2 linked regions of the Homo sapiens genome follow. The protein of the gene in region 2 purifies or fractionates together with the protein of the main gene of each other region. This does not show direct contact. Each region holds a gene or a part of one and is shown on either strand. Other genes may lie near its edges. The genes, in order: NUB1 and LCN8.

Region 1 (3,806 bases), on a different chromosome or scaffold from region 2:
GCCTACATTTGGTTGTAACTATGTCACTGTTAAGCAGTGGTTAAAATCAGCTAGCGACAATAGAATCAACTAAATTCATCTTTTCTAATCTTCTTTATTCTCAGCCTAAGACCAGATCAAAGCAACAGATATTTGATAATCTACTACAGGGAGAACATTGTGCTAGACAATATAAACGGAAAATGAGAAAGTATAACACACCTCTCCTACCCTCTAGTTGAAAAAATAATAAAGCCAATTCACAGCTACAAACAAGAAGCTGTACTGCAGTCTGTCACGGTTAAAAGCAAAGACCAGCAGGGCGTGGTGGTTCACACCTGTAATCTCAGTACTTTGGCAGGCTGAGGCAGGTGGATCACTTGAGCCCCGGAGTTCAAGATCAGCCTGGGCAACACAGTGGACCCCGTCTCCACAGAAAATAAAACATTAGCCTGGCATGGTGGTATGCACCTGTGGTCCTAGCTACTCAGTGGGAAGCTGAGGTGGGAGGATTGCTTGCACCTGGGAGGTGGAGGCTGCAGTGAGCTGCAATCGCACACCACACTCCAGCCTGGGTGACAGATAGAGACCCTATCTCTAAATAAATAAATAAAAGCAAAGACCATGGGCTCCATCTACCGTTTTAACTCTGTGGCCCTGAATAAACTACCTATCTTCTAGGACTCAGTTTCCTCATACATAAATTAGAAATAAAGGGCAGAAATCAGTGAAACAGAATGAAAGAAAACAGTAACAAAATCAAAAGCTGGCTCCATGAATAAATTAGCCAAATACACAAATCTAACAAAAATTATGTCAAAGATGCAAATAAACAAAATAAAAAAGGGTAAACATAGATGCAAACAGATTTTAAAATAACAAATAATATTGTGAACTAAAAAACACAAATGTGAACACATTTCTGGAAAACTAGCTGGATTTTTTTCTTTTGAGAAATATGACAACCTTTCTAACATTAACACACAAAATAAAGGTCCACCAGTGGTTAAGCCATCTTGATTAAAAAAAAAAAAAAAGCAAGGGTGGGGGGAGGTCACCAGATTTTAAGACTGCAACAAAGCCACAGTAATAAAAAACACCACAGGTGAGTAGGAAGAACAGAAAATATAGGAACAGGGCCCCCCAAAAAGGGTCACCACCAATCAGCAGGGAAAAGACAGACTATTTAATGAATTATATAGGAAGAAAAATAAAGGAACCCTTAAACTTTATATAGAAAGGGGGACTCTGGACAGACTGAAGACCTCTTATAGATTAAGCTAATATTCAAGAAAATGTAGACTATCCTTGTGGCCCTGGGGTTAGGGAAAGGACTTCAACAAAACACAAACCATAGGCAATGGATTTGATGACATCAAAATCAAGGTTTCTGTCCAATGAAGGATGCCACAAACAGAATTAACAGAGGGATGAGGCAACAGTGAAAAGATATCCATGACATCTAAAATAGACAATGGGAAATTGCTAGAGATGACGCTGGAAAGCAAGGCTAGGGTGAGCTGTGAAGGGCTGTCTTAGATCAAGCTAAGAAATGTGGACTTCATTCTCGAGGCCACAGGAACGCACTGGAAACCAGTGGGCTACAGTGCTTGTATGGATGGCTGCAGTAGCTAACTGGTCTCCCCAAGTCAACTCATGCCACCTTCAAATACATTCCCCTACTGCGTGACCTTTCTAAAACACAAACAGAATTGTGTATCACTCCGCAGCACAGATGTCTTCCCATGTATCTTAGGAGAAATGTACTAACACTGAGGAAGGTCATCTAGTTTCTCGTTTCCCAACAGCTGCGCTACTGACATCTGGGACTGGACAAGTCTTTGTTGTGGGGCCTGTTCTGGGCATTGCACATTCAGCAGCATCCCTAGCCTCCACCCACTAAATGACAGCAGCACAACCTCCCCCGTCACCAAGTTATAAGCACCACAAATGTCTCCAGACAATGCCAAATGTCTCCTGGGAATTCACAGTGTGGCCTCTGCTTGCCCCTCCATCCTTAAAAAGCACTCCCCTCCCCTCATTCTCCACACACAGCCACACTGGACCTTCCTCAGTTCCTCAAATTCACACCATAGTGCTCTGACATAAGGCTCTCAGTCTGGAACGCACGCCACCATGGCCTCCCCACTGTCCTGACACAGCCTTAGCTCTTCTCCTTCAAGAAGAATTTGCTGGAACTGGCATCTTACACTCAGCACACCTTACATTCCATTCTCTAACATTTTATCTAAGCTGTAATGAGTGTCTTTCTTCCCACTATCATAGAACAGACAGTAAATATTTATTGGAAAAGCTATTTTCTGCTTTACATTTTTATTTTAGTAAACTTCTAAATCACTTTTGGATTATAAATGAAATAAAGCTACAAATTTTTGAAAAGACATTGAGAAAAAAAGGGAAGTCATTATTTCTATATTTGGTTCATTAAAAAATTATGCATACTTTGCCATACATACCTAGTTGTAGTTGCTTCTTATTTATGACAATTTTGATATAATTTTCTTGAAGTCCAAAGGTTTCAGCTATTCTGTAAAATAAAACCAGTGAAAATTGTAGGAAAACAAAATTGCGATTTATTATCCATTAAAAAGACATTAGCCAGGCCCGGTGGCTCACGCCTGTAATCCCAACACCCTGGGAGGCCAAGGTGGGAGGATGGCTTGAGCCCAGGAATTCAAGACCAGCCTGGGCAACAGAGAGATCCTATCTCTACAAAAAATTTTTAAAAATTAGCCAGGCCTGGTAGCCCATGCCTGTGGCCCTAGCTGCTTGGGAGGTTTGGGTAGGAGGATTGCTTGAACCGCGAGTTTGAGGTTGCAATGAGCTATATTTATGCCACTGTGCTTCAGCTTGGGTGACAGAGCAAGATCCTGTCTCTAAAAAATAAATATTTTTTAAAAGAAGGCTTTAATCATGATAGCTCTTTTATCCATTTTATCAGAAACACCCAGGATTTCAACTGACTGACTCACAAACATCACAATAAAGCCATCTTACTAGACGGCTATTTGAAACTGTAGGAGACAAGGTCCTTTTTAAACTTTCCGTTTTACTGCTTGTTTCCTCAGGCAGTGGAGACCACAGTGCTGTAGATCCATGTGAACAGGAAGCCCTAGTTGCACATCCGGAGAAAATCTACCTATACCTTCTGTGGTCTCCCTGGAGAAGCCCATAGCGGGGGCTGATCCACAGGGTCTTCTACGCATGTGTGTTGCATGCCACTTCCTGAATCCACCCCTGACAGCCCTGATGTAGACCAAAGAAGGAAATGAGAAAAATCAGCTGAAGAAATACACCCGCTAGCTAGCCCTGGAGGTGCTCCAAACACCATTTTAAAACATACAAGGAGATGAAATAACCCACCAGATCTCAAAGTTAGGATTTCACTAGTATGTGGCAAACGTGTGTGTGTGTGTGTGTGTTTTACAGATGGGCCAACAGCCTGAAATCAGATAAAACACCGTGCTGAAGGTCATAGCAAGCTATTAATACATTAGGGAAAAAAAATAGTAATTCAAAACTAATGAGCTAGTGAGTACCAGGTGTCTCCTGCTTGTATCACTCACTCATTCACTCAAACATGCACCAAGTGCCTACCATATGATAGGCATGGAGTTCCCACCTGCTCGGAAGTTACACCAGGAAATAGTGCTTGCAAGTCTTGAGTCCTCACTTTGCCACTTACCTACCAGTGACAGCTCTAATAAGTCCTTCAACCTCAAAGCCTCAATTTTCTCTTTTATAAAATGAAGATAATACCTGCCCTACCTATCTTAAGAGGACGCTCACAGAGGATCAAATAAGCC
Region 2 (4,380 bases):
GCATGAGGAGCTGCAGAGTCAGCCCACAGGGCCCAGCCCAGCCTCCACCCCAAGGCCCCTGGGCTCACCAGGCCGGGCCGCCAGGTAGAGACCAGTGTCTGCTGTCAGCTCCCGAAACTTCCAGAACCCCAGCCGGTCCTTGTCCTCAAGGCTCCGAGCTGTGGGGCACAGGGGGGCTGGGCGGGCAGTCCCTGGGAGAGCAGCAGCTGGGCAGAGCCCCCCAGGGCCAAGCTTACTAAAGTACTTGAGGACGCGAAAGTTCCTGCCCCGCCACATCAGGGACACCCGCAGGATGGCGTAGCCCTCGTAGTCGGTGTCCAGCACGTGGATCTCTCTGTGGCCTTCAAGAGCCGGCCATGGCGTTGGGGGAGACGTCTGAGGGGGACGGACCTCGAAGGCCAGGGTCTGCAGGGTCTAACTCCATCCTGCCCCCACCCAGTCCCAGCACTTGAGTGGTTGGAGACACTACAGAAGCTTTTGAAGGATGATCCAGTGTGTTGGTGGGAGAATGGGAAGGTCTGGGGCATGAAATGTGCAGGGAACAGCATGGGGAACAGTGCAGGGAACCCTGCAGGGAACAGCATGGGGAACGGTGCAGGAAACAGCATGGGGAACAGTGCAGGGAACAGCATGGGGAACAGTGCAGGGAACAGTGCAGGGAATGCATGGGGAACGGCACAGAGAAAAGTGCAGGGAACAGCATGGGGAATAGTGCAGGGAGCAGTGCGGGGAACAGTGCAGGGAGCATTGCAGGGAACAGCATGGGGAACAGTGCAGGGAACAGTGCAGGGAATGCATGGGGAACGGCACAGAGAAAAGTGCAGGGAACAGCATGGGGAATAGTGCAGGAAACAGCATGGGGAACAGTGCAGGGAGCAGTGCGGGGAACAGTGCAGGGAGCATTGCAGGGAACAGCATGGGGAACAGTGCAGGGAACAGCATGGGGAACAGCGCAGGGAACAGCATGTGGAACAGCGCAGGGAACAGCATGAGGAACAGTGCAGGGAACAGCATGGGGAACAGCGCAGGGAACAGCATGGGGAACAGTGCAGGGAACAGTGCAGGGAACGCATGGGGAATGGCGCAGAGAAAAGTGCAGGGAACAGCATGGGGAATAGTGCAGGAAACAGCATGTGGAACAGTGCAGGGAGCAGTGCAGGGAACAACATGGGGAACAGCACAGGGAATAGTTCAGGGAACAGCATGGGGAACAGTGCAGGGAACAGCACAGAGAACAGTGCAGGGAACAGCATGGGGAACAGTGCAGGGAACAGCATGGGGAACAATAAGGCCTAGCTGTGTGCACAGCCGGGTTCCACCTGCCATCACAGGGCAACTGCACTTACCAGGAAAAGCGAATTTTCCCGTACTGTCTATTTCTGAGCCCACGATCTTCTCTATCTCACAGCTTCCTGAGCTGAAAGGCAGCAAAGTGCCCATCGGTAAAATGCTAGCCTGTGTCCCGCCTGCTGGGCTCCTTCCCGGAGTGGGGCTGTGTCTTTAGGAAGGGCACAGGCAGCACTGTGGAGTATCCCAGGCCTGGAGCAGGATGAGGCGGGGAATGTGCCAGGTGGGGCCTTCCCCTGGGGATTCTGTTCCCTCCAGCCAGTCACCTGTCCCACACCCCTTTTCCTTCCTTCTAAGTTCACGGGGCTTCATTAAAACACTATGCTTATATTTGGGATAAAATGCAGATCCAGGAGCCTGGGGGTCGAGGGCTCAGGCAGACGGGCACCGGGAGTGCTGGCCCACCAGCGGGACGGCACTCAGCCCAGACCCCACGCTGCAGCGGGTGCAGCAACCCACGCCCAGTCCCCGGCCATGCATGCCTCTTCCTCTCCAGCAGCCCCCAGGCCTCTTACCTGTTATATGCAACCTTCACGGTCAGGTTACTCCCGCTCAAGGTGAGGAACAAGCCCTCCACCCGCTTCGGGGCCGTCAGCACCAGGCTTTGATCGGAGGCCACACCGACTTCCCTCCAGAATCCTCCAATCTAGAGAGATACGGAGCCTGGCCAAGAGCTGAGCAGTGGGTCTGAGACCCCCAGGGGCATTCCACGAACCCCCGGGCAGGGGCCTGCTGGGCTCTGAGAGGTCAGCAGATGGCTGTGAGGCTCGGTGGCAAAGCAGCAAGACATCTGTGAGCCCACTGTCCCCAGGCATGTGTCCCTCCAAGCGGTGCCTTCAGGCCATCAGACAGCAATGCCCACAGGGCAGCCCCTCCCCACTGGGCCATCTAGAGCTGCGGAACAGTCCCTAGGGCTTCTGCGACATGTCGGGAGGAACCACAGGCCCTGCCTGACCTCGGAGGCAGGACCCAGGAGCAGAGGCCTGGAAAAGAAAGCCCGCAGGGCGCGGCGGAGTGAGAAACGCCAGAGAACAGGTGGCTCGGGTAGCGCAGCTCGCCAGCCTGCCAACCACGCCAGAGGATGGGCCTCCTGCCCTCAGCAACCCGCCCAGAGCCGGGACTTCCGCTGAGACTTTTAAAAACCCTACCATTTTCGGGAGGAAAGAATCTTCGTCTCCGGCATCTACCTTCTCTGGGCCTGCTAATGTGCCTCTGGCCCAGCAGCCGGCACAGACTCAGCGGAGAAGAAAATGCCGCTAACAGGAAGTGTCTAGCCGGGCACCAGCGTCCCCACGAGCTCCCCACACCGGGAGAGGCCTCCTTCCCTGAGCCTGAGGGGTTGGGGGTGTAGGAGGAGCCCCACCAACTAAGAAGGAGAAGCCACCTTCTGCCGGTCCAGCTCCTCCATGGCTGCTGCCACCTGCGCCCGGAGCACCACGAGGACACCCAGGATGGTGCACGGCAGCCTGGCCTCCGTGGCGGGGTCCGGGCTCCGGGTTCCCCTGCTGCACAGCCTGGGCCGATTCTATACGGACAGTGCAGGCTTGTGCGCCCACCCGGGAATGTCATCAGGACAGCTTGGCTGCTGGCAGCTCAGAGACGTGGGTTTCTGCACAAGCGCCATCGGCCCTGGTGACACCCACGCCCACCGCAGGGGTTAGCCTGGCCTAGACAGCAGCCTGCCCAGCCACCCTCCTGGCATATGGACAGCGGTGGACGCTGCTGGGGCCGTCTCGGAGCCTGAGAGGAAGAGGAGCTCCACCCACACCACCTGGGGCTCGGTGACCCCCACCCCACATGACACTTGTTTTTTTGGGCTCGTTCTGGCCTGCGCTGCGAGGGCTGTGGGCACTGATGGGCAACGGACCAGAGCCTCCAGCACTTTCCTGTGCCACCCCACGCCTGGCCCTTTGAAATGTGTGCCAGACGCAGTGGGCAGTCAGAGCTCCGGAGGCCGGAGGCACAGCGCCAGCGACCAGAGTGACAGTGACAGTGGGGAGGGCCTCTGCTGCACCAGGCATCACCACCCGGGGGCAGTGTGGAGCCCGGCCCTGGAGCCTGATCACCCAGGCTTGCAGCCCGCCTGGCCTCTTCCTGGCTGTGCAGCCTTGGATAAGTTACCCAACCCTTCTGTGCCTCGGTTTCTTGATTTTTTTTTTCTTTTTTTTTTTTTCCTGAGACAGAGTCTTGCTCCATCGCCCAGGCTGGAGTGCAGTGGCACAATCTCAGCTCACTGCAGCCTCTGCCTCCTGGGTTCAAGCGATTCTCCTGCCTCAGCCTCCTGAGTAGCTGGGACTACAGGTGTGCGCCACCACGCCCGGTTAAGTCTTGTATTTTTAGTAGGGACGGGGTTTTGCCATGTTGGCCAGGCTGGTCTCAAACTCCTGGCCTCAAGTGATCCACCCGCCTCGGCCTCCCAAAGTGCTGGGATTACAGGCATGAGCCACCGCGCCAGGCCAGTTTCCTGATCTTTGAAATGAGGAGTACGCTGGGTAGCTACCTATGTCTGTGGGTCTGCTGTGGAGCGCTCAGGCTGGCTGGCAGTCCCCTGGCCACAACGGTGACCCATTTCCAGGGGTGTAAACCAGGTGCCCACGATCATATCAGTGGTGAGGGGCAAAACCCAAGTGGGCCTAACTCCCCGGCCTCCTGCAGCTCCCCCAGCTCCCCCCCCGGCACCGGGGCCTGTGTGCCCAGCACAGCCCCAGTGGCCGGGCCGTCTTCACAGGGTGCCCAGTTCCCCACAGCACTGCAGACCCATAGGGACTGGGCCAGGATGCTCCATTCTTCCTGTGGGTGCAGCCCCCACACAGGCCAAGAGTGGCTGCTGCCTCCTGCCCCTCCCCAGGGCCCCTCACCCCTGTCCCCTGCCCCCTCACCCAGGGCCCTTCACCCCTGCCCCCTGCCCCTTCCCAGGGCCCCTCACCCCTGCCCCCTGCCCCTCCCCAGGGCCTCTCACCCCTGCCTCCTGCCCTCTCACCCCTGCGTCCTGCTCCCTCGGCCAGGGCCTTCTCACACTTGCCTCCCTGCCTC

The links.
Region 1: the proteins of LCN8 (region 2) and NUB1 purify together in Homo sapiens (affinity purification with mass spectrometry; one large-scale study listed by BioGRID and IntAct). This does not show direct contact.

The regions. Positions count from the first base shown.
Region 1 is NC_000007.14:151,351,533-151,355,338, reverse strand, and holds part of NUB1 (NEDD8 ultimate buster 1), read right to left. Parts: intron 3,373-3,806; exon of another isoform or gene 3,146-3,372; intron 2,528-3,145; coding exon 2,457-2,527; intron 1-2,456. UniProt on the Homo sapiens protein: Specific down-regulator of the NEDD8 conjugation system. Recruits NEDD8, UBD, and their conjugates to the proteasome for degradation. Isoform 1 promotes the degradation of NEDD8 more efficiently than isoform 2.
Region 2 is NC_000009.12:136,755,176-136,759,555, forward strand, and holds the start of LCN8 (epididymal-specific lipocalin-8), read right to left. Parts: upstream 3,069-4,380; 5' UTR 2,756-3,068; coding exon 2,732-2,755; intron 1,994-2,731; coding exon 1,863-1,993; intron 1,418-1,862; coding exon 1,347-1,417; intron 1,278-1,346; exon of another isoform or gene 342-1,277; coding exon 237-341; intron 159-236; coding exon 69-158; intron 1-68. UniProt on the Homo sapiens protein: May play a role in male fertility. May act as a retinoid carrier protein within the epididymis.